4 separate regions of the Homo sapiens genome follow, and regions 1, 3 and 4 are each linked to region 2. Evidence: fine-mapped expression QTL. A gene starts in region 2. Each other region holds a variant in brackets. All regions are shown on one strand. Distances are from middle to middle. Region 1 has its middle 24 kb from the start of PYGL. Region 2 holds the start of PYGL (glycogen phosphorylase L). Region 3 overlaps TRIM9 (tripartite motif containing 9). Region 4 overlaps PYGL (glycogen phosphorylase L).

The links. PIP is the estimated chance that this variant, and not a neighbour inherited with it, causes the effect.
Region 1: its variant is fine-mapped to the expression of PYGL in whole blood (TOPMed, PIP above 0.99).
Region 3: its variant is fine-mapped to the expression of PYGL in cerebellar hemisphere (GTEx, PIP above 0.99). The same link has a PIP of 0.9 or more in cerebellum, cerebral cortex, prefrontal cortex and putamen.
Region 4: its variant is fine-mapped to the expression of PYGL in whole blood (TOPMed, PIP above 0.99).

What each region holds. Positions count from the first base shown.
Region 1 is chr14:50,965,722-50,971,015 of GRCh38, reverse strand. No RefSeq gene overlaps it. Among named protein-coding and RNA genes, the nearest start is that of PYGL, 24 kb to the right of the region's middle. The variant G/T (reference allele first, on the strand shown) is at 3,035.
Region 2 is chr14:50,942,112-50,947,405 of GRCh38, reverse strand. It overlaps PYGL (glycogen phosphorylase L), which reads left to right and starts at 2,923. Exons shown (of 20, transcript NM_002863.5): 1 at 2,923-3,245. The coding sequence starts at 3,003. LOC124903314 (a long non-coding RNA gene) reads left to right here and starts at 4,816. Exons shown (of 2, transcript XR_007064163.1): 1 at 4,816-5,294. LOC400212 (a long non-coding RNA gene) reads left to right here. Exons shown (of 4, transcript NR_170195.1): 4 at 942-1,116. RefSeq lists a silencer at 2,744-2,903 and an enhancer at 3,572-4,095.
Region 3 is chr14:50,974,470-50,979,763 of GRCh38, reverse strand. TRIM9 (tripartite motif containing 9) reads left to right here. Exons shown (of 13, transcript NM_001387360.1): 12 at 215-377; 13 at 2,411-4,498. The coding sequence ends at 2,473. Among named protein-coding and RNA genes, the nearest start is that of PYGL, 33 kb to the right of the region's middle. The variant G/A (reference allele first, on the strand shown) is at 2,514.
Region 4 is chr14:50,918,734-50,924,027 of GRCh38, reverse strand. It overlaps PYGL (glycogen phosphorylase L), which reads left to right. Exons shown (of 20, transcript NM_002863.5): 5 at 1-59; 6 at 2,961-3,072; 7 at 3,405-3,487. Among named protein-coding and RNA genes, the nearest start is that of PYGL, 23 kb to the left of the region's middle. The variant C/T (reference allele first, on the strand shown) is at 2,766.

The DNA.
Region 1 (5,294 bases), 24 kb before region 2:
GCTTATTGGTTGGGCAGGCTTGAAATGATGACTAGGTGAAGGTTAATTGTAGCTTCTCAAGAGGTTGATTTTATCATTGGCATTTTGGCAGAAATAACAGGCTTTGCAGAATACGCAAACTTTATCTAGGTGTAGTGTTGTATTAAGACCTGATACACCAGCAGAAAACCACAAATTTCTTTATAGGAAAGAAATCACTCAGTCTTTAAAATTTCTGAGGTCCAGCCAAACCTCCATGCCACTATCAAATTCCACATCTTCAAGATTTCAAGTCAGACCAAGAATTAACACATATGCTGAGGCTAAGCTAGCTATCATCCTAGCTAAGGGGACACTTTGCTTTGATATTAAGAGAATCTGAGCATCTGCTCTCCTTGCCTTAGGGATGGGGAAAGCGAGAATCCCAAGGAATCAGATGAAACACTGAGTCTATTTTTTTTTTTTGAGACGCAGTTTCGCTCTTGTTGCCCAGGCTGGAGTGTAATGGCATGATCTCGGTTCACCGCAACCTCTGTCTCCCAGGTTCAAGCGATTCTCCTGCTTCAGCCTCCCAAGTAGCTGGGACTACAGGCATGTGCCACCAAGCCCAGCTAATTTTGCATTTTTAGTAGGGACGGGTTTTCTCCATGTTGGTCAGGCTGACCTCAAACTCCAAGGGGAGTTGGGATGTGAAATCAGGGGCCCAAAAGAGTACAGGATACAAGGGTGCACCCAGTGACCAGGAGATTCACACGCATCACACACCATGCTTTTTGTTTTGTTTCCCTTTTTTCCTTTTTTTTTTCCTTTATGCATCAAGCTTCATTTCTAAGCTCTTGCCAGGTGTCTGGCAGTAACCAAAGGAAGCTTTATAATACATGGGGTGCACTCCTAGTAAACAATGTCAAAGACACTGTAAAAGGAGAACAACTAAGGAACATCAGTTGTCCCACAAAATTGATCTGACCCAATATGATATTTTTCATGGTCTGAATCCTTCTAGGGCTAGACTAATAATAGCAATTACAATTTTCTTATTTCTCAGATGCAAGGGTTGTGTTTTGTGTTTCTGTTTTGAGAGACAAGGTCTCACATTGTCACTCAGGTTGGCACGCAGTGGCATGATCATAGTTCACTGCAGCCTCAAACTTCTGGGCTCAAGGGATCCTCCTGACTCAGCCTCTTGAGCAGCTGGGACTACAGGCACATACCACCACTACTGGCTAATTTTAAAATTTTTTGTAGGGATGGAATCTTGCTATGTTGCCCAGTCTGGTCTTGAACTCCTGGTCTCAAGGGATCTTCCTGCCTCGGGCTTCCAAAATGCTGGGATTAAAGGCGTGAACCACCAGACCCAGCTGGTTTTTTTGTTTTGTTTTTTACACCTTAACATCTCTCAAATCAAGACACATCTTACAACACATGTCAAAAGAAACTCTTTAGGCTGGGAGCGGTGGTGGCTCACGCCTGTAATCTCAGCACTTTGGGAGGCCAAGGCGGGTGGATCACTTGAGGTCAGGAGTTCGAGACCAGCCTAGCCAACATGGTGAAACCCCCCGTCTCTACTAAAAATACAAAAATTAGCCGAGTGTGATGGTGCATGCCTGTAATCCCAGCTACTCAGAAGGCTGAGGCGGGAGAATCGCTTGAATCCGGGAGGTGGAGATTGCAGTGAGCTGAGATTGTGCCACTGCACTCCAGCCTGGTGACAAAGCGAGACTCTGTCGCAGAAAAAAAAAAAAAGAAAGAAAGACACTCTTCAGCCATTGATAGAGTGGTGGTTCTCAGCCTCCACTGCACACTGAAATCATCTGGGGAACTTTAAGAATACTGATGCTGCCGGGTGCGGTGGCTCACGCCTGTTATCCCAGCACTTTGGGAGGCCGAGGAGGGCGGATCACGAGGTCAGGAGATCGAGACCATCCTGGCTAACACAGTGAAACCCTGTCTCTACTAAAAATACAAAAAAAATTAGCCGGGCGTGGTGGCGGGCACCTGTAGTCCCAGCTACTCCGGAGGCTGAGGCAGGAGAATGGCGTGAACCCGGGAGGCGGAGCTTGCAGTGAGCCGAGATCGCGCCACCGCACTCCAGCCTAGACGACAGAGCGAGATTCCGTCTCAAAAAAAAATAAAGAAAGAAAGAATACTGATGCCAGGTTACTAATTTAGTTGGTCTAAGATGCAGCCTGAGAATCTGGAATTTGTAAGGTGATTCTAATGTGTGTCTAGAGCTGACAGCCCAGAGGTAAGGAATGAGTGGGTAGTGTATACTCAGCAAAGTTTTTATTGCCTACACATTTGGAAAAACAATAAGATGGGGGGCATCATCTTATAACCAACAAAGTGGATCCCTCAAAACATGAAGTCTTTCCATGTTCAGTGTCATGAAGCCAATACACAAAACTAAAATTGTCAAGTAGAGCAGGCTTTATTCAATGGCCATGGAATTAAGAAGTGGAAGCATGGCTCACAAATCAACTTCTTGACCAGTGAGGGGTGAGGGGTGCAAATAAAGAGTTTCTCTAACGAAGAGGATGGACATTAAAAATGAAAAGAGGGGCCGGGCACGGTGGCTCACACCTGTAATCCCAGCACTTTGGGAGGCCAAGGTGGATGGATCACGAGGTCAGGAGTTCAAGACCAGCCTGGCCAATATGGTGAAACCCCTTCTCTACTAAAAACACAAAAATTAGCTGGGTGTGGTGGCACGCACCTGTAATCCCAGCTACTTGGGAGGCTGAGGTAGAAGAATCACTTGAACCTGGGAGGCGGAGGTTGCAGGGAGCCCAGATGGCACCACTGCACTCCAGCCTGGGTAACAGAGCAAGACTCTGTCTCAAAAAAAAAAAGAAAGGAAAATGAAAAGAGGAAGACTCAGGTCTTTTCTGGAAAGGGTCAGTGAACTTCCCAGAACTGGAGTGATGCCTTCCTCCTTTTTTGTCCTTTTATAGCTTCTTCTGGTCATTGTCCTAGCAATTGTCCACTGTTATGGTGATGGTCAGAGTGTCATTTAGCATGGAAATGAGATTATAATGAAGCCCGAGTTCTTTCTGAA[G/T]TCATTTGCTCAGCTATTTTGGTTCTAACCAGTCTCAACTGTTCCGGTTACAAAGGGAACTTTTTATTGCAGGCATCCTGTTTCTTAAAGCAGTGTTAGGGCAGAGCAGAAATTCAGCTATGTCACAGAGGCATTACACCAGCTAACAATTTCATCATTCTGTTACTTGTTATTTCCTTTGAAAGTTGATAAACTTAAATTCACATCTTAATTATCACTTAAAAGGTCTTTTAAAAGATCCCATTATAATGCAGTATAGAAATGAAAAAATATATTGTACATGCATAAAATTAATAATCATTCACTGGATAATATACAATTGAAATAGTCATACACTGGATAATATAATTAATAAAATTGTCAAGATGCTGAGAACAAATCACAAATTTTTGAAATCTAGGAAAAGTTTTTGGGACCAACTGATATGTGAAGAGCTATCATTCAGATGTCTAAATCTGTCAAAAGCTTCCAGCTACTTCCCAGAAGCTCTTTATTTCCTATTATTTATAATTCAGTTAACAGTAGCAATACAAACAAAATAGCCAAAAGAGAAATGCAAAAAAAAAAAAAAAAAGAAAAGAAAGAAAGAAAAAAACACACACATAATCCCACTGCATTCTTTAAATTATTCTGCAGCCTCACAAATATGCTAGCAAGGTCCAGATCTCGTGCAAGGGTAATCATTACATTACGTATAACTGCCAGTGGCCCTGCTTGATACAGAGGTACTTGGGGACCGAATTGTGTTTGTTAGTCTGAAGAGCAAAGTAGCATGTATTGTGGCAGATAATGCATGCTATTGTAAGTAGAGTTTTCCCAAGTGGTATATATTAAATGTTGAACTTGGCTTTGGTTTTCTCCAAAACAGTTCCATTTTTTTTTTTTTTTTTTTTTGAGACAGAGTTTCACTCTTATTGCCCAGGCTGAAGTGCAGTGGTGCGATCTTGGCTCACTGCAACCTCCACCTCCCGGGTCCAAGCAATTATCCTGCCTCAGCCTCCTGAGTAGCTGGGACTACAGGCACACGCCACCATGCCAGGCTAATTTTTGTATTTTTAGTAGAGACGGGGTTTCACCATGTTGGCCAGGCTGGTCTTGAACTCTTGACCTCAGGTGATCCGCCTGCCTCGGTCTCCCAAAGTTCTGGGATTACAGGCGTGAGCCACCATGCCCGGCCAAAAGAGCTACTATTAAGCCAGTAGTGCATCATACAATCTCTAACTAGAACTTCTTACAATTGAGAAATCCAATCACTCATCATATCCGCAGGTTCCACATGGGTGCATTGAAACAAGCTTGGGTTGAAAATGCTGGGAAGGAAATTAAAAAAACAAGAAAAATAATACAAATAAAAGGAATACAGCATAACAACTATTTACAAAGCATTTACATTGCATTAGGTATTATAAGTAATCTAGAGATTTAAAGTATATAGGAGGATTTGCATATGTTACATGCAAATGCTACACCATTTTATATCAGAGACTTAACTATCTGTGAATTTTGGTATCCCAGGGGTGTCCTGAAACCAAGGCTTCACGGATATGGAGAGACAACCGTGCTCTAATAATGTAAGTTGCCAAATATTGAATCTTATTGTTTTCCAGGCAATGTACCAAGGGCTTTTAGTGAATCATCTTACTTACCCTTCATCTTACTTATGCATTTTTATTATTACCATTTTAGAAATGAAGAAACTGAAGCACAAGAGGTTAAGCAACTTGCCCAAAGTCACACAGTATACAAGTATGACAGCCAGGGTTTGAACCCAAATAGTCTGACTCCAAGACACAGGCTCTTAACCTGTAGGTTATATGACATATGATTGCTACACATAGGATGTACCACAGACAACACACTCATTCATACGATTAATATTTAATGAGCACCTATTAAGTGATAAATGCTGTTGTAACAATGCTATTACTGGGAATACCAGTGAATAAAATAGACAAGGTCCCTACGTTCTTAGAGCTGATATTCAAATAGGGAAATAATAAGTAAAGATCAAAATCATTTTAAGTCTTAATAAATACAACACAGGAAATCCAACAGGCTATGAGATAGAGAGATATGGAAAAGTCAGCAATTACCTCTCTGAAGGGGTTATATTTGGGTTGAAGAAGCCAAGACCAAGGGAAGGGGTAAAGGCCTTGAGGCGGGAACAAGCCCAGTAAGTCAAAGAGTTAGTGAGGGTGAGGTGCATGCAGTGAGAGGAAGGAGGGTGGAGAGCCCAGCCTGCTGAGGTTATATGAAAATG
Region 2 (5,294 bases):
GATAATTGTATTAAATTCTAGTTAGATGCTAAAACTTCAAGAACTTTTAGAGTCTGTACCTGCATTCTGTTAAAAATATAGATTAAAAAATGCTAACATGTTAACACAAAGGACTTTCCAGAAAGACTTAAAGAAAAGTGAAAGGGGAATAACTGTCTTGCAATGTAATTCATTGTCGTTTAAGACTGGGTCTATGGAACACCCTAAATCACCTGGTTCCATCACGTTCTTTTTAACATGGAGATGGATAGTTTTTCCCCATACTCTATATATTGAGCATTCTATAGTTCATGATTTTTCTGCATAGAGAATTGTTCAAGCCGGGGGTGCAGGCTCACCGACTGGATAGTGAATCAAGAAAATAGTGTGTTCATTAGTTCATCATTACCCTGAGTTTCCAACAAGAATTTAGTACAGGAAAGTAGACAGCGGAGCTGGGAGCCATCTATTTGAAACTGTCTTAAGCAAAACTAAGAAACCGAGTAAGCTTGCTTTTGGTGTCTTTCATCCCTTCTTGTGTGCCCCCTAATTATTCACTCCCCAATGCCCAGACATTATGATGCCTTCTCCTGCTCAGAGACCTTTCTGGGAGGAAGACCTACTCAGACCTGGTATTCCCTCATCCTAGGCTCTACCCTATTTTTCATCCAGCTGTTAAAGCTGAGTGACTAATTTCACACTTATGTACGAATGACCCATAACTGGCTTAATGCTGTGACCATCTTGGGGGTATTCAAAGCTGATAAACACTTTTTTAAGTTATATAATAATCAAAGAAGCTTATCTTTCTGCTTTATTTCAAATTTCACCCCACAGGCCTTACTTATTTTTAAGATCAATGATTTTGATGGGCCCCCCCTTCCCACTCTTAATTCAGGGTATTTCTGGCCCCATCCGGATCCAAACTCTAATGCTCATCTCTTCCATACTGTCCTTTGCAGGTCATCGGTATTGCAAGAGTTGCATAAGGCCCAATTCAGTCTCTGCCCCAAAAGCTCAAGTCCAAACTTCAGAATCTGGGAGGACAAGGATTCAGGAAATTTTGTCAGAACTATGAGCTTTGAACTTTCACTTTTATGGTGAGGGTCACATTTGGTCTGAATCAATTAATCCATTACCCGCCCCCCCCCCCCCCCCCACCACCACCATGTGTGAATTCAAAATAATCAACTTGGGTTTATTATAAAAAACAAAATATATTAATATAAGTATACTAAGATTTTTCTAGAAAACTTGGCCGGGCGCGGTGGCTCACGCCTGTAATCCCAGCACTTTGGGAGACCGAGGAGGGCGGATCACAAGGTCAGGAGATCGAGACCATCCTGGCTAACACGGTGAAACCCCATCTGTACTAAAAATACAAAAAATTAGCCGGGCGTGGTGGCGGGCGCCTGTAGTCCCAGCTACTCGGGAGGCTGAGGCGGGAGAATGGCGTGAACCCGGGAGGCGGAGCTTGCAGTGAGCCCAGATCGCGCCACTGCACTCTGCCTGGGTAACAGAGTGAGACCCTGTCTCAAAAAACAACAAACAAATAAACTTAGAAGAATATATGTGACTATTGGCCGGGCGCGGTGGCTCACGCCTGTAATCCCAGCCCTTTGGGAGGCCGAGGCGGGCAGATCACGAGGTCAGGAGATAGAGACCATCCTGGCTAACATGGTGAAACCCTGTCTCTACTAAAAATAAAAAAATAAAAAATAAAAAATGCGAGGTGGCGGGCGCCTGTAGTCCCAGCTATTCAGGAGGCTGAAGCAGGAGAATGGCGTGAACCCGGGAGGCGGAGCTTGCAGTGAGCCGAGATCGCGCCACTGCACTCCAGCCTGGGCAACAGAGTGAGACTCCGTCTCAAAAAAAAAAAAAAAAGAAGAAGAAGAAAGAAAAAGAAAAGAAAAAGGAAAAAGAAAACTTAATTCTGGCAATGGACTGTTTCTAAAATAATATATTAATACTACTTAATGAGGAAGAAAAAACCTCTGACATCCTAAAATGCCAAGTGTTTGCCTTTACCAAGGTTTAAGCACACATAAACACGCATATTCAAATACCACCCAAAGTGGAGGTGCAAAGATCAGCCTGTACCGCACAGTAACACAGACTGGGTTGTTTTTTGTAAAGAAGGCAACTAGTCCAGTGAGTAATCCCTTCATTTTCCACACACATACCCTTCTGTTTTCTCCCTCTCCTCCCCCCACACCCTCCACTGCAGTTAAAACGTAATTCGAAGAAGCCTAAGGTAAAAGCCCCTGCCGCATAATGACCCTAGAGCTTCACCTCACCTACTCTGATTCTTAGTAACCTACCTCTAAGGATGAGAGACAGGGTGCTACGAGCGGGGCGAACTTTGGTCCAGGAGTTAAGAAACCTGAACCCTGGAGTCCTCAAAAAAAATGAATGAAAATAACAGAGGCGCCCTGAGGATCCAAGCTGGGGCGGTGCCAAGGGCTGGCAAGTGAGGTTGGGACAACAGAAGTCAAACGTGCCGTCCTTCCAGATCCCGGCGCTTATGGCGGAAGCCACTCCAGGTGAGAAATCCTAACAGTCATAATGGCATAACAAATAAACATCGGCAAAACAGCAGTCTGCCAACGACGTGCTTCCCTACACAGACGTCCTCCTGTCTCCACACTCTAGAGGGGAGAGGCGGAACAAATGCTGCCTCCGCAGATTTTGGAAATCCGGAAGGGAGCCTCCGAGCCCAGGTCCCGGGCTGGCAGGGGTCTCGCCGGCGCTTGGACCTCGTCTCCCACCCCCGAGCCCACTGCGGCCCCAGAGCCTCGGGAGGGGCCGGGCACTTCCTCTGCCCTCCGGCCTGGGGCAGGGGCCGGGACGCGGTGGGAGTGCAGCGGGGACGGCACCGCCCGAGGGGGCGGGCCCCAAACTTTCGTGCGCGTTGAAAGCTGCTGGCGCGGCGGGGCGGACTCCACCCCTGCCCGGCAGCCCAGCGCCTCCGGCCGCACTTCCAGCTCTCTGCGCAGCCCGCCGCGCAGCCCGCCGCCCCAGCCATGGCGAAGCCCCTGACGGACCAGGAGAAGCGGCGGCAGATCAGCATCCGCGGCATCGTGGGCGTGGAGAACGTGGCAGAGCTGAAGAAGAGTTTCAACCGGCACCTGCACTTCACGCTGGTCAAGGACCGCAACGTGGCCACCACCCGCGACTACTACTTCGCGCTGGCGCACACGGTGCGCGACCACCTGGTGGGGCGCTGGATCCGCACGCAGCAGCACTACTACGACAAGTGCCCCAAGGTAACCGGGGGCGGGACGGCGGGCCGGGGTCCAGCCCGGAGTCGGAGTCTCCGGCCGCGGCCGGGCGGGACGAGGTGGAGAACCCCTCAGAGTGGTCCCTTGCACCCGGTCCTTGCCCCGAAGTCCAGAGGAGACGTGTCTAGGCTGTGGGCGGGCAGCCTGGGGGACAGATTAGGCCTCCCAACAGACGCCGAACTCATGTCTCCGAGGTGCCACCCGCCAGTGTCCCGCCCAAACCACTGTGCCGTCCGCCCCTGGAAACCGCCAGGTGGGCAAAAGCCCAGGCCCCTCTCGCCTGTCCACTTCACAAACTTTTTTGGAACTTTGACTCTCAGCATTTAATCAAGAGGTGACGGGGGCCTCTTGTCCTGTATGCCGGACACTATTCTCTGCCCTGGACACTCAGCCCTAAACAAAAGGGACAAAAATCTTGCCTTGCTGGAGCTTGGTATTTTGGGAGGGGAGACAAACGCCGAGCTGGGAAAAGGTCGTAAGTCTCAGGCCTCTGGGAGTGGCTAAGTGTGGTGCAGAGGAGGGGCAGGGTCCCGCTCCAAGCGTAGAGCGCCGCCCACCCATTCTCCTGAGTGGGTGTAGCTCCTGGAATTCCGTGAGTCTTTCGCAAAGGCGGCCCAGGGCCAGGCAATGCCCTGGACTCGTCCTCCCCGAAGACACACACTCCCCCGACCCTTAGCCCTTCCACACCCGAGGCCTGCCCCCAGAGCTGCTGAGGAAGGCTGGTCAGGGACCACCTCCATCCACGGCGTGGGGGCGGGAGCAGAGACCTCCTTAGGGTGATTTTGGACCTACAGAGGGACAATATCTCTGCCTGACAGTTTGCGAAGAGGGCGAGAGGCAGTGGGGAAGGACTGGGGAGGACATGGCAGGGAGAGGGATTGTGTGCAGGCTGGAGTGAGGGCGGGTGTGAGTCTGTATTGGGAGAGGAAACTGGAGAAGCCAGGTAGAGACATATTGGAAAGAATAAAAGATTGGGATACATCCCAGGGGCAGTGGGAAATATATATAAACATTTATTAGAACTTTTTAATTATGTAAAGGTGTGAAGAAAAAAAAATGGTCTATAATCCCAGTGCCCAAGAAACCCCATAGGAATTTTTAAGAAAGGAAATGAATGTAAATTCTCATAGTAAGAAATTGCAACTGTAACAGTTTTCAAATGGAAAGTAACTCTTCTTCACCCCAAAGACCTAGGCCTCCACCAAGGTAGCAACTGCTAAAATGTATCCTTAAAAATTTAAATGCACCTTAGAAAACACTTTATGTATACATATATTTACTGTTTTGTTGTTTTGTTTTGTTTTGTTTTGTTTTGTTTTGTTTGAGACAGAGTCTCACTCTCGCCCAGGCTGAATGAAGTGCAGCGGCGCCATCTTGGCTCACTGCATCCTTCGCCTCCAGGGTTGAAGCGATTCTCCTGCCTCAGACTCTCGAGTAGCTGGGACTACAGGCTCCTACCACTACACCTGGCTAAGTTTGTATTTTTAGTAGAGACAAGGTTTCACCATGTTGGCCAGGCTGCTCTCAAACTCCTGGCCTCAAATGATCCTCCTTCCTTGGCCTCCCAAAGTGCTGGGATTACAGGTGTGAGCCACCACACTCGGCCACTATCTTTTAAAAATTTATTTACACAAAGGGAATGCTACTAAGTACACCATACTGCGCCTCTCATTAAAAATTATTTTTAACAATTTTAAGCGGAAGGGTGGGACACTGAGCATATATTAGAAACACACACTCACGCCTCTGTAGCATTTAGCATCATAGAGCACCAGAGAATCTTGTATGTTTTTCCTTCAGTGGCTTATGCAGTGCTTTATGGTTTTCCTGGTTCTCCGGCCAGTTTCTTCACTGGGCTCTCCTTTTCTACGTGAGTGCAGATATAAGCCAGGAATTCCGACGTGTGTAAATTCTGATAGCGATACACTGGGGATACAACAATGAACATGTTTCATTCCACACGTGTTCATCAAATATCTACTCCATCACAGTCGTCTGTCTAAACAGGATGGTTCCTGCCCTCATAAAGTAGAG
Region 3 (5,294 bases), 32 kb before region 2:
TGTTATGTATAAAACACAGATATACACACAGTACCAACAGGTATACAGTATATCTGCGGTATTAAAATTTATGTGCAAGGGATGATTAGGGAAACGGTTTTGGGGTAGTGATGATTATAAACAGGTTGCAAGACACTGGTTTCACCACACAAAAGGGGGGAGCTTCTAGAGTGACCACAAGGAAATGAACCCCAATTTTTCTCTTTTCCTACAGAACTGAGGGAGGGATCACAAAAGGGGCCACAATTGGGGTCCTCCTCGACTTAAATAGAAAAAACTTGACATTTTTTATCAACGATGAACAACAAGGTCCCATAGCATTTGATAACGTGGAGGGCCTCTTCTTCCCTGCGGTCAGCCTGAACAGGAACGTGCAGGTAAGCACCCTGCCCCTGAGGTTAAACAGCTGTTGCTGGCTACCGGTTCAAAGGCTGCCCAGGGCCGTTCAATCCAACCGAAGAGAGGGAAGCTGACAGCGTAAGGCCCAGACCAAGATATGAAGGAGAGGAGGAGAGAAAGGGATCAGCACTGGCAACTTATTTTATTCCACGCCAAGCATAAGCACCTTCTTTATACTTGGACGCAGACTAGTTAATAGCACATAGGAAACTAGAATTCTCTTCATGGTTGGCTAATGATCATCTCTGTAGCTCTAGTTTCACCTCTAAATAGAAACGAAAGCCTTTAACCAACTGGCATGAAAACAAATAGAATGACTTAACAAAGCTCAGGAGTGCCTGAGAAGAGGTGAGGGTGTAAGACTGAAGCATTAGTATCATTATCAGAAAATCTGAGCATCTTCTCTGCACTCTTGTTTGGCTCTGTTAGGTCCTAAGGGGTAGAAAACATAGTCCCTACCTACAACTTAGTCAATTATTATTTATTATAGAATAAAACAACAGCTTCTCATTTATTCATTCAGCAAATATCTATAGAATGCCTTTAATGTGCCAGGCACAGTTATAAGTGTCTGGGATACATCAGTGAAAAAAAAAAACAAAAAAACAGATAAAAATCTTGCCTTCATAGAACTTACATCTTAGTGATAGGAGACAGACAATAAATAATAAGCATAATTACAATGTTAATCAGATGGTGTGTCAGAAGGTGTTTAGTGCAGTGGAGAAAAGACCAAGGGCCCATGAGTGGTGTGGTTGGGAAGGGCAGCCACAGTATTGCGTAGGTAGGGCTTATCGCAGTTACCGGTGAGCTGAGCCTTAAAGGAGTGAGGGAGTGAGTTGCGTGGAGCCTTCCAGACAGAGGGAACAGCCTGTGCACAGTTTCTAAGGCATGAGGGGCCTTGCATGGGCAAGGAATGGTGGAGAGACTCTTGGGCTGGGGCCTGGAAGGGGGACCAGAGCCATGCATGGGGGAAGAGCTGTGCCCTGCCAGCCGCTGTCAGGACTTAGGGTTTCACTTCCCTCCTGAGCTGGGCATCTCATTAACAACTATGAGCCTCATTCCACAAATGGTTGTCTTGAGATAAGGCTTGAGAATTACAGGTGACTTTTGCCCTATCCAGAACCAGCCTTGGAAACTATTTATCAAAATTCATTGTTGTGTTTCAGTATGTGCAGTAACATTGATTGCAAACTAGCAGCCCCTGCCCTTCTCCCTGCAAGGAGATGGGGTTTTCTAGAAGGCTGGAATCTAATCTTTCAGAGTTCAGCCTCTACACTTTAAGAAAGAAAACCATAAATTACCCTAGAAGCGAGTCTCAGAAAAACCCCATTCAAGGTTTTTCACATTAGCCATTTCCCTTTCAAAGAATATTATACTAGATGCTCTTCAGGGGTTTTCAGGACCTTCTGATTATCTATTGATAAAGACTCTTGGGCTGGAGAAGACAGGGATAAGAACTGCATGAAATGGTTCTAGTTTTATCCATAGCTATCCATTGAGGTTTGGGGATACACGGAAATTGGTAAAATAGTATAATGCCATGTTTTTTCACAACTGGCAATCATCTATGCGACCCCAGAAAGAAATGTTTGCCCTAATTACAATAACTAGTGGACAAGTAATAAGGGAAGTGCTGTCTCTGCGAATCTGTCCTCTATCCATGGATTTGGCAGTGGTCACTGTGGTGTGGCCAGTAGGCTCCTCTATCTGAAAACCAAGGCCTGTGTCTTCAGTTATAAGGAACACAATCTCCCCGGAATCCTTTAAAAGAGGCAGGTGACTAAGAACCATATAATCAAATGTCACCAGGATTTGAGAGCCCACCATGGTGAGCAGCCTGTTACCATAGGCAGGATTCTTCTTGAATTCCGTTTAATGCCTGCTAGCCTAGATGTTTAAAGCGAAGCAAACAGAACACTTTTTGAGTTAGGGACACACCCACGGTACACTGTGTAAAGGGACAGGGGGATGCACGATGCCTCTCAGGACTCACAGTCTCATTCCCCAGGTCACGCTGCACACCGGGCTCCCAGTCCCCGACTTCTACTCCAGCAGAGCATCAATAGCCTAAGGATGTGCCGTGGAGGCGCCAGCTGCCTGTTCTTACCTCC[G/A]CCTGCGAGAGCCACAGCAAGGAGCTCAGCCAGCCGTGGTGGGGTGCAGAGTTGGCAGGAGTGGGAGAAGGAGGAGAGAAAAGCTGGTCCTCTGCAGTCTTTACACCCACAGCTCTGCCCTTTTCCCTTTCAACCTCTCCTCCGCTGTCATGCCTGCTTCCGCTTCCATGTCCAACAATTCTAACCAACAAAGGACCTAGACAGCCCACCAAGTCACTTGGTTCCCACTCCCAGATTTTGCTTTTATTTAACTTAATTTTTTATGTAGGTGAGTTATATTTTCTTTCTTTTCTGATCAGGTTATTGGTGACTTACTGGACTGGCACCGCCAGGAGAAAATTCTCCTGCTAACTTTTTTTCTTAAGCTTTCTGTCAAACAATGAGGTTGTAGGGGGAGGTAGGGAAGAATGAGCTGAATTTGTAGCATACAGCTTACCTGCTAGAATGTTCTTACCCTCTTACCTCTCCTGTAGCGTTAGCTCTGCAGAGCTAAGCTTTGGGAGAATGAATCTATCACTGAGAAGTTTTACTACTCATTGAAGCACAAAAATATCCGCTACACAGGTTCACATCAGGGTAGGATCGTTAGGATGGCTCTATAATTAGGATAGGCCAGAACCCTGGCCACTGTATAAAATTGGAAAGTCTCTAAGACACAGGCAAACCAGGGGACTTAATGATTTGGTTCGTTTATTTAATAAAAGCTTTTAATTGAGAACCTACTATTGACCAGGCACTGTTCAAGACACTAGAACATTATGTTCTAGACACTGTGGGGACACAGTGGTGAACAGACAGGCATGGTCTCTGCCCTTCGGAGCTTATATTCCAGTAGGAGAAAAAGCAAAAATAAAATAATTATAAATGGTCATATGTACTAGAAAGGAAATGGGCAAGGGTCAAAGAGACTCATGGGCAAGATCTTTCAGGCTTCCTAGAATGATGCTAAAAATCCACACATTCTGGCCATAGCACCAGAAATGTACCAACTCAATGCCTTTTCAGCTGCACTATTTAATTATGGTACCTGCTGCCACTCATCACAGAGCCCTTCTTGGTAGAAATGATGTCAGCATTCTTATTTGCTGATGCTGCTATGATACCACGCCTTAAAAATTGACAGTTGAAAAAAAAAAGAGTGACCAGAGGGCAAAGGACCCATTCTCAGTAATGGGAGATCTTGAGTTGCAGTCCACAGCATTCACATTCTCAGGATAAACATGCTTGTCTCCATATATACTATCTGTGCCTGTTATGAATGAAAAATCCATCCACTCTGCTGCCATTCACAGCCTAATTTTCTGGAGTAGTCCAAACAATGTTTGGAAAAACATGGGACTGTATGTCATTACTATGACTGATAGCAGAATAATAATGCATCTTACTTCTATATAGAGATAGACTTACATAGGTTACCCTTGAAATTCATTAGTTTGTCATAAAGTTTTAGGAAAGGTAGGACCCGGAAAGAAGTTCTAATTAGTTGTCTAAATATTTTTCAGTGAGCCAAGAAATTCACCATGAAAAAACAAGAATAACAAATAGAAGGGAAGAGATAGGATGGGAAAGCTAACAAATTAAAGTTTTGGCAAAAAGGAATATATGTAAATAGCTAATTATTTACTTTTGTGCTTACTTTATTTAGATTATTTCTATCAGTTACAATCTTTTTCTAGTTAAGTGTACCTAATTTATGGAATGGGTGCTATCCTGTTTATGTGTGTCTTGGTTTTTCTTGGCTACAGAAAAACTGTTGCAGGGCAACACTAGTTTGATATTTGATTTACTCTCCAATGAGACTCAATGGCTGGGCCGTGGTAGACTCATAGTTCCTCTTGTTCTTTATTAAATTCATCCTGCTAATTAGATTTCTAGTGACTTGTAACATGTAGTTTACACTGAATTGCAATTACAGATGCATACAACTACTATACTAGAAAAAATTGTCATTTCTGATGTGCCAATAAATGATTTTTATGAGAGAATAAAATGTCTCTAGAATTTCTTAGTTTTTATCTATTGCGGATGACAATTCACCTTTGTCAGAGCGATGTTTCTTCAGGAAGATCTCATTGGAAAGGCCCCCAGAGCTCTGGAGAGCATGTGTTCTTTCCCCTGTTTCCTTGGGCATGTGGCACTGCCTTTTGGTTTTACTCATATGAAATTTAACCTGATGTGAAATGTCCAGTGGAGATGTCTGGGGTCTGCTTCCAAGTATTGGGGATTTACTTCTGTTTTTTTTTTTTTTTTTTAGACGGAATCTCACTCTGTCACCAGGCTGGAGTGCAGTGGCGCAATGTTGGCCCAGTGCAATCTCCCCTCCTGGGTTCAAGCAATTCTCCTGCCTCAGCCTCCCGGGTAGCTGGGACTACAGGCACACACCACCACGCCCAGCTAATTTTTTTGTATTTTTATTAGAGACGGGGTTTCACCATGTTGGCCAGGATGGTCTTGATCTCTTGACCTTGTGATCCACCCGTCTCGGCCTCCCAAAGTGCTGGGATTACAGGCGTGAGCCTGGCCTACTTTATTTTTAAAAAGCCACACATTTGGCTTGCAATTTTATAGTACTGCAAAACAGAGTGTCACTGACTTTTTCAAACCTAGCTCCTTTAACATTTCTTTGAATGGCAAAACAATAATTACAACATTATTCATCTACCTAACATTGTTGTTAGCCACTAAAAAAACACTTTGTTTCTTGATTAAAGGAAAAACATTACCTACAAATATATGGTCTGAGTTATAACCTCACAGAGTGGAATAGTACACAGTTGGTAG
Region 4 (5,294 bases), 23 kb after region 2:
TGCACTTCTATGGAAAAGTAGAACACACCAACACCGGGACCAAGTGGATTGACACTCAAGTATTCAGAGTGCTCGTATAGCCAGCGTTTTGTATAGTATTTAGTACAGTAGATAATACATTGACTATGTAGCATATAGTGGTGATATTGAGTATAGGGCATGTCGTGTTTTGAATAATAGAATATATTTTTGTAAATAAATCTGTTACTTCTCTTAGCGCAGCCCAGTCATTTTGGAGACAAAGGAGCTGAGGCCAAGAGAGGAGTGACTTTTATAAGGGTCATTTTGCAACCAGCTTTGTCAGAAAATTGTCAGTTCTTTTTTTTTTTTTTTTTTTTTTGCCAGAAAATTGTCAGTTCTATAGTAACCAGCATGCTTACCTCTTTGGTTTTATATTAAGGTGTTGATAGCAAAATTGAATAATTTGAAATGTCATTCCTGGCTGGGTGCAGTGGCTCACAACTGTAATCCCAGCACTTTGGGAAGCCGAAGCGGGCAGATCACCTGAGGTCAGGAGTTCAAGACCAGCCTGGCCAACATGGTGAATCCCTATCTGTACTAAAAATACGAAAATTAGCCAGGAGTGGTGGCCCATGCCTATAGTCCCAGCTACATGGGAGGCTGAGGCAGGAGAATCGCTTGAACCTAGGAGGTGGAGGTTGCAGTGAGCTGAGATCATGTCGCTGCACTCCAGCCTGGGTAACAGAGTGAGACTCTGTCTCAAAAAAAATAAAATAAAATAAAATAAAAATAAAAGTTTGCAGTTTACACAATCAATCCTGGAAGCATTTTATTTACACTGTGGGTCCCACTGCTGAGCTAACTTGCATTTACAAAACACCTCTAGATACTGTCATAATGTATCCAGAAATTCAATTAGAGAGAGTGTGTGTTTCTGGGCCAACAGAGGCAAGGTTAGGGGGCAGAGGTAATATAAGTGAGCTGGCCCAAGCCATGCAACTTAGCCTCATAGATTGAAGTCATCACATGAATTAACCCCAAACTGGTACCCAGTGATGTCAGAGCATGAGTCCAGATGTGCTCTGTGCGTGCATGGGATGGCTTCCAATAAAGTCAAATGACACAGTCACGTGTCAGTTTAGGTCCTCTAGGAAACAGACACCAGAGAGAATGAGAAGTGCAAGTGACATATTGGGGGATGCCTATGAAAGACAAAGGGGAGAGGGAGCAGGATGAGGTGGGAAGGCTTCAGACTGTGACACAGGTGTGCCACCTGTGAAAAGTGAAGGGGAAAGAAGCAGCATTCTCAGGGAGAGCCTCAGACCACAGTGCCACTCTGAGCAAGTGGCCAGGCTGATGGAGCCTGACACTAAAGATTGCCCATTAGAGAAGTCTCGGCCCTAGTGTCCCAGCCACATGGAGTGTCCCAGAGAGCGCAGCTTTGGTGTGAGCTCTGAGGGAGCAAGTCCTCTTTGAGGTTCTCTGAAAGAAGATCTAAGCTGTGCACTTCTTGGGCTGCCTTAATTATGCTTCAAGGGTCAGAAGGGTCCAACTCTTGTTTGAACCGAGACTCAATCCCAGCCTGCAAATGACTTTCCCTGATTGATTACAACTTGCTTTAAAAGTCCAGAGACTTTTATCTCTTAATGAAAGATATTTAAATGAGGGTGATTTATTACTTTGAGGTCGCGGTGATCACGAAAGTATGACTGAGTATATGTGATTGATATGGGCCATAATGCTTCATTCATTCACAATTCAGCAGACCAAATTAAAGAGATGCGTGTTTAAGTTTCAATCCTGCCATGACTGTGATCTTGGGCAAGTCACTTCTCTCTCAGCTTCAGCTCCCTCATGTCCAAAATAAGTGGGTTGCACTAAATGAGATCCAGCATCCTCCAGTTCAATTATTCTGTCATTCTCCTTCCTTCGAGCTTGACTCTGATGAGGCCGGGAATAAAAATGAATGATTTCTCACTTGAATTTTCGATGCACTGTGAAACATAGTTAATCTTCCTCTTCTCTATTTCAGTGACTGTCACAAAGATCAAGCTAGATTTTCCAAAGCTTACCTCTTAGACTCAACTCAGCTAATTATCAGCTGATTTGGCAGATCACTGTAGGAATCACTAAAATAACTCCTTATGCAACTTTAAAAATCTAGCATAGCATTTTAAATATTATATGAGATGTTATAGCTTCATAAATTTCCTATTCCATTTACTTTCATCATACTTGAAATCAGATCACTGAAAAACCTATGCAAAACATATTCTAAGTGCTATTTTTTGGTGGGTACAGATTCACAATGTCACTTTGTTTGCATATCATATTTTATTATTATTAGAGCAATGGCTTTATCTGAAACATGAAAGATAAACTTTTTTGGCTGGGTGCAGTGGCTCACGCCTGTAATCCCAGCACTTTGGGAGGCCGAGGTGGATGGATCACGAGGTCAGGAGATCGAAACCATCCTGGCTAACACGGTGAAACCTCGTCTCTACTAAAAATACAAAAAAATTAGCCGGGCATGGTGGCGGGCACCTGTAGTCCCAGCTACTCGGGAGGCTGAGGCAGGAGAATGGTGTGAACTTGCAGTGAGCCGAGATTGCACCACTGCACTCCAGCCTGGGCAACAGAGTGAGACTCCGTCTCAAAAAAAAAAAAAGATAAACTTTTTTGAATACAAATACCATATCATTCCATTCCACTGCATTTATATCAGGGCAAGGGCACATGGAGAGTCAACATAGAAATACTGTAAAGGACCATCAGTGTGGATGGTTTCAGTCACTAGATTGTAC[C/T]AGGTCGGGGAGGAACCACATGTTCCTCTAATACCCTCTGCAGCCCTGAGACCCTCTTCTCCATTTAGGCCTCACACAATTTAAGTTGGTAATGGAGCCAGGAATAGAATTCCATTGCAGTCTCCCAGCCCCTTGTTCAACCTATGTCATCACACTTGGGAAACAATGAGCAGCTGCTTCTGTTTAATCCCACAGGTGGTCCTGGCTCTGCCATATGACACCCCCGTGCCCGGCTACATGAATAACACTGTCAACACCATGCGCCTCTGGTCTGCTCGGGCACCAAATGACTTTAACCTCAGAGACTGTGAGTACAGCACAGGCCTTGGTTTCTTTATGCGTGTGCTTAATCTTTTTGATTGGTAGTTAGAACCAAATTGAGCTTGAAACAAACAAAAAAGCCTTGAGTTTCTGATCTGAACTTCACTGACTAAGCAGGCATTGTATGGAGGAAGTAGGGAGGGCATTTTTAAAGCAATTCTCATGTGAAGTCCAGCATGACGGTGTGTTGAAATCCTTTGGGATTTTTAGGAATTTTAGGAATCCCACATGACACACAGCACAGAGCCAGTGAGATCAAGAGGTTTCCAACAACAATGGCTGGTTTCTCTATTTATTGTTTCTCTAACTTTCCCCTAGTTAATGTTGGAGACTACATTCAGGCTGTGCTGGACCGAAACCTGGCCGAGAACATCTCCCGGGTCCTCTATCCCAATGACAATGTGAGTGATCAAGGTTGCTTTCTTAGTGGCAACAGAGGCAGCTTATTTCACAAGAGCCTGTTCAGTAACCTATAAAACACATTTAATATTGATGTTTTTCCATGTGCAGAACAAGCTCCGTATTTCTTCCTGAATTGTGTAGATTTCTCCTCCCAACCAAGTAAGGAAAACAAATCTGTATAGTGCATGAAATCAGAATTGGTATTTTGCCCTTGATTAGTGACCCCATCACTAATTGGGAAGTTATTGAGATGTATTTTAAAACAAAACCTGGATATAAGAGATGAAGTAAATCACTGGTGAAGCACTGCCTCCTTTCCAGATAGAAATTTTATCTGCAAAGTCAGAAGTCACTGAATATTTTCTGCCTCGCCTCTTCTCTCACTGACTAGGCTCTTTCTGGTCCTCTGCCCTGATGCTAGATGGAGTTAGAGACCCTGGGGCAGACCCATGAACAAACATCTGTTTCTTCTGCCACTGACTTGTATCTTTTTCTTATAGTCAATTATTCTAATTTTATTGTAAATATAGCTTAGTTAAAAAAAAAAAACACTTGGGGCCAGGTGCAATGGCTCATGCCTGTAATCCCAGCACTTTGGGAGTCTGAGGCGGGCAAATCATTTGAGGCCAGAAGTTCGAGACCAGCCTGGCCAACATGACGAAACCCTGTCCCTACTAAAAATACAAAAAAATTAGCCAGGTGTGATGGTAGGCGCCTGTAATCCCAGCTACTGGAGAGGCTGAGGCAGGAAAATCGCTTGAGCCTGGGAGACAGAGATTGCAGTGAGCCGAGATTGCACCACTGCATTCCAGCCTAGGTGACAGAGTGAGACTCTCTCAAAACACACACACACACACACACACACACACACACCACTTGGAACTGGATCTCAGATAACTGCTATTGATTCTTGGTTGTTTTAAATATATGTAACTCTAAACTTCTCTATGGGTAAAATCATTTTCATGAAGCTGTAATGATTTTTTTAAAGTGGTCTCAGAAGCAATAAAATTAGCACTCTGCTTTACAAAGATGGCAGAAGACAAGGATCTTGGGGGGACTAGGACATAAATAGTCCTTAATACCAGATGTCCACCTGGTGTTAAATCATAATCTCTCAGAAAGGAAGATGATTATGTGGATTTTGCTGGAGCATTTTTAGGAACCTAATGGTATATGCTATTATTCCTTTGTGGAAAACATTGTGGCTTCAGTACATTTCAGAGAAATCTCTAACCCAAAAGCAAAAAGTTATTCTATGTCAGGGTCAAAGTAAGAGTTCTTCCAAGTCTGGGACCGTACTGCCAACCTAAACCCAGTCTGCAGGGGCTTGAAATTCATCCTCCTGTCTTCAGTAAGGACCAAAACTAATTTTACTGGGAAATAATCGTCTGCAGTAACTGACAATATATACTAAGTTAGCATGGGGTAAAAAATTGACTAGATTTGTTGGGTAAAAGGGAGTTCTCAGGATCATGTTTTTGTTTGTTTGTTTGTTTGTTTGTTTTTAAGAGTAAGCTGAAAAATCCTTTTATACTGTAATTACAATAACAAATTCATTCTTCTCCTCAACTTGGCCATAGCCCTGGCATAGGTCAGTGATTATACTTTTAAGTATTAGGGAGTTCAGAGCCCCAGATATTCTATATGCAGACCTCTATGCTCATATTCATTAGTTTTAATAAGACTCTGGTCCAAGGCTTACATTTGGGGGATGGGGTGCTCATCATTTTAAAATTTTTAATTTTAATAGTTTTAGGGGTACAGGTAGTTTTGGTTACATGGATAAGTTCTTTAGTGGTAATT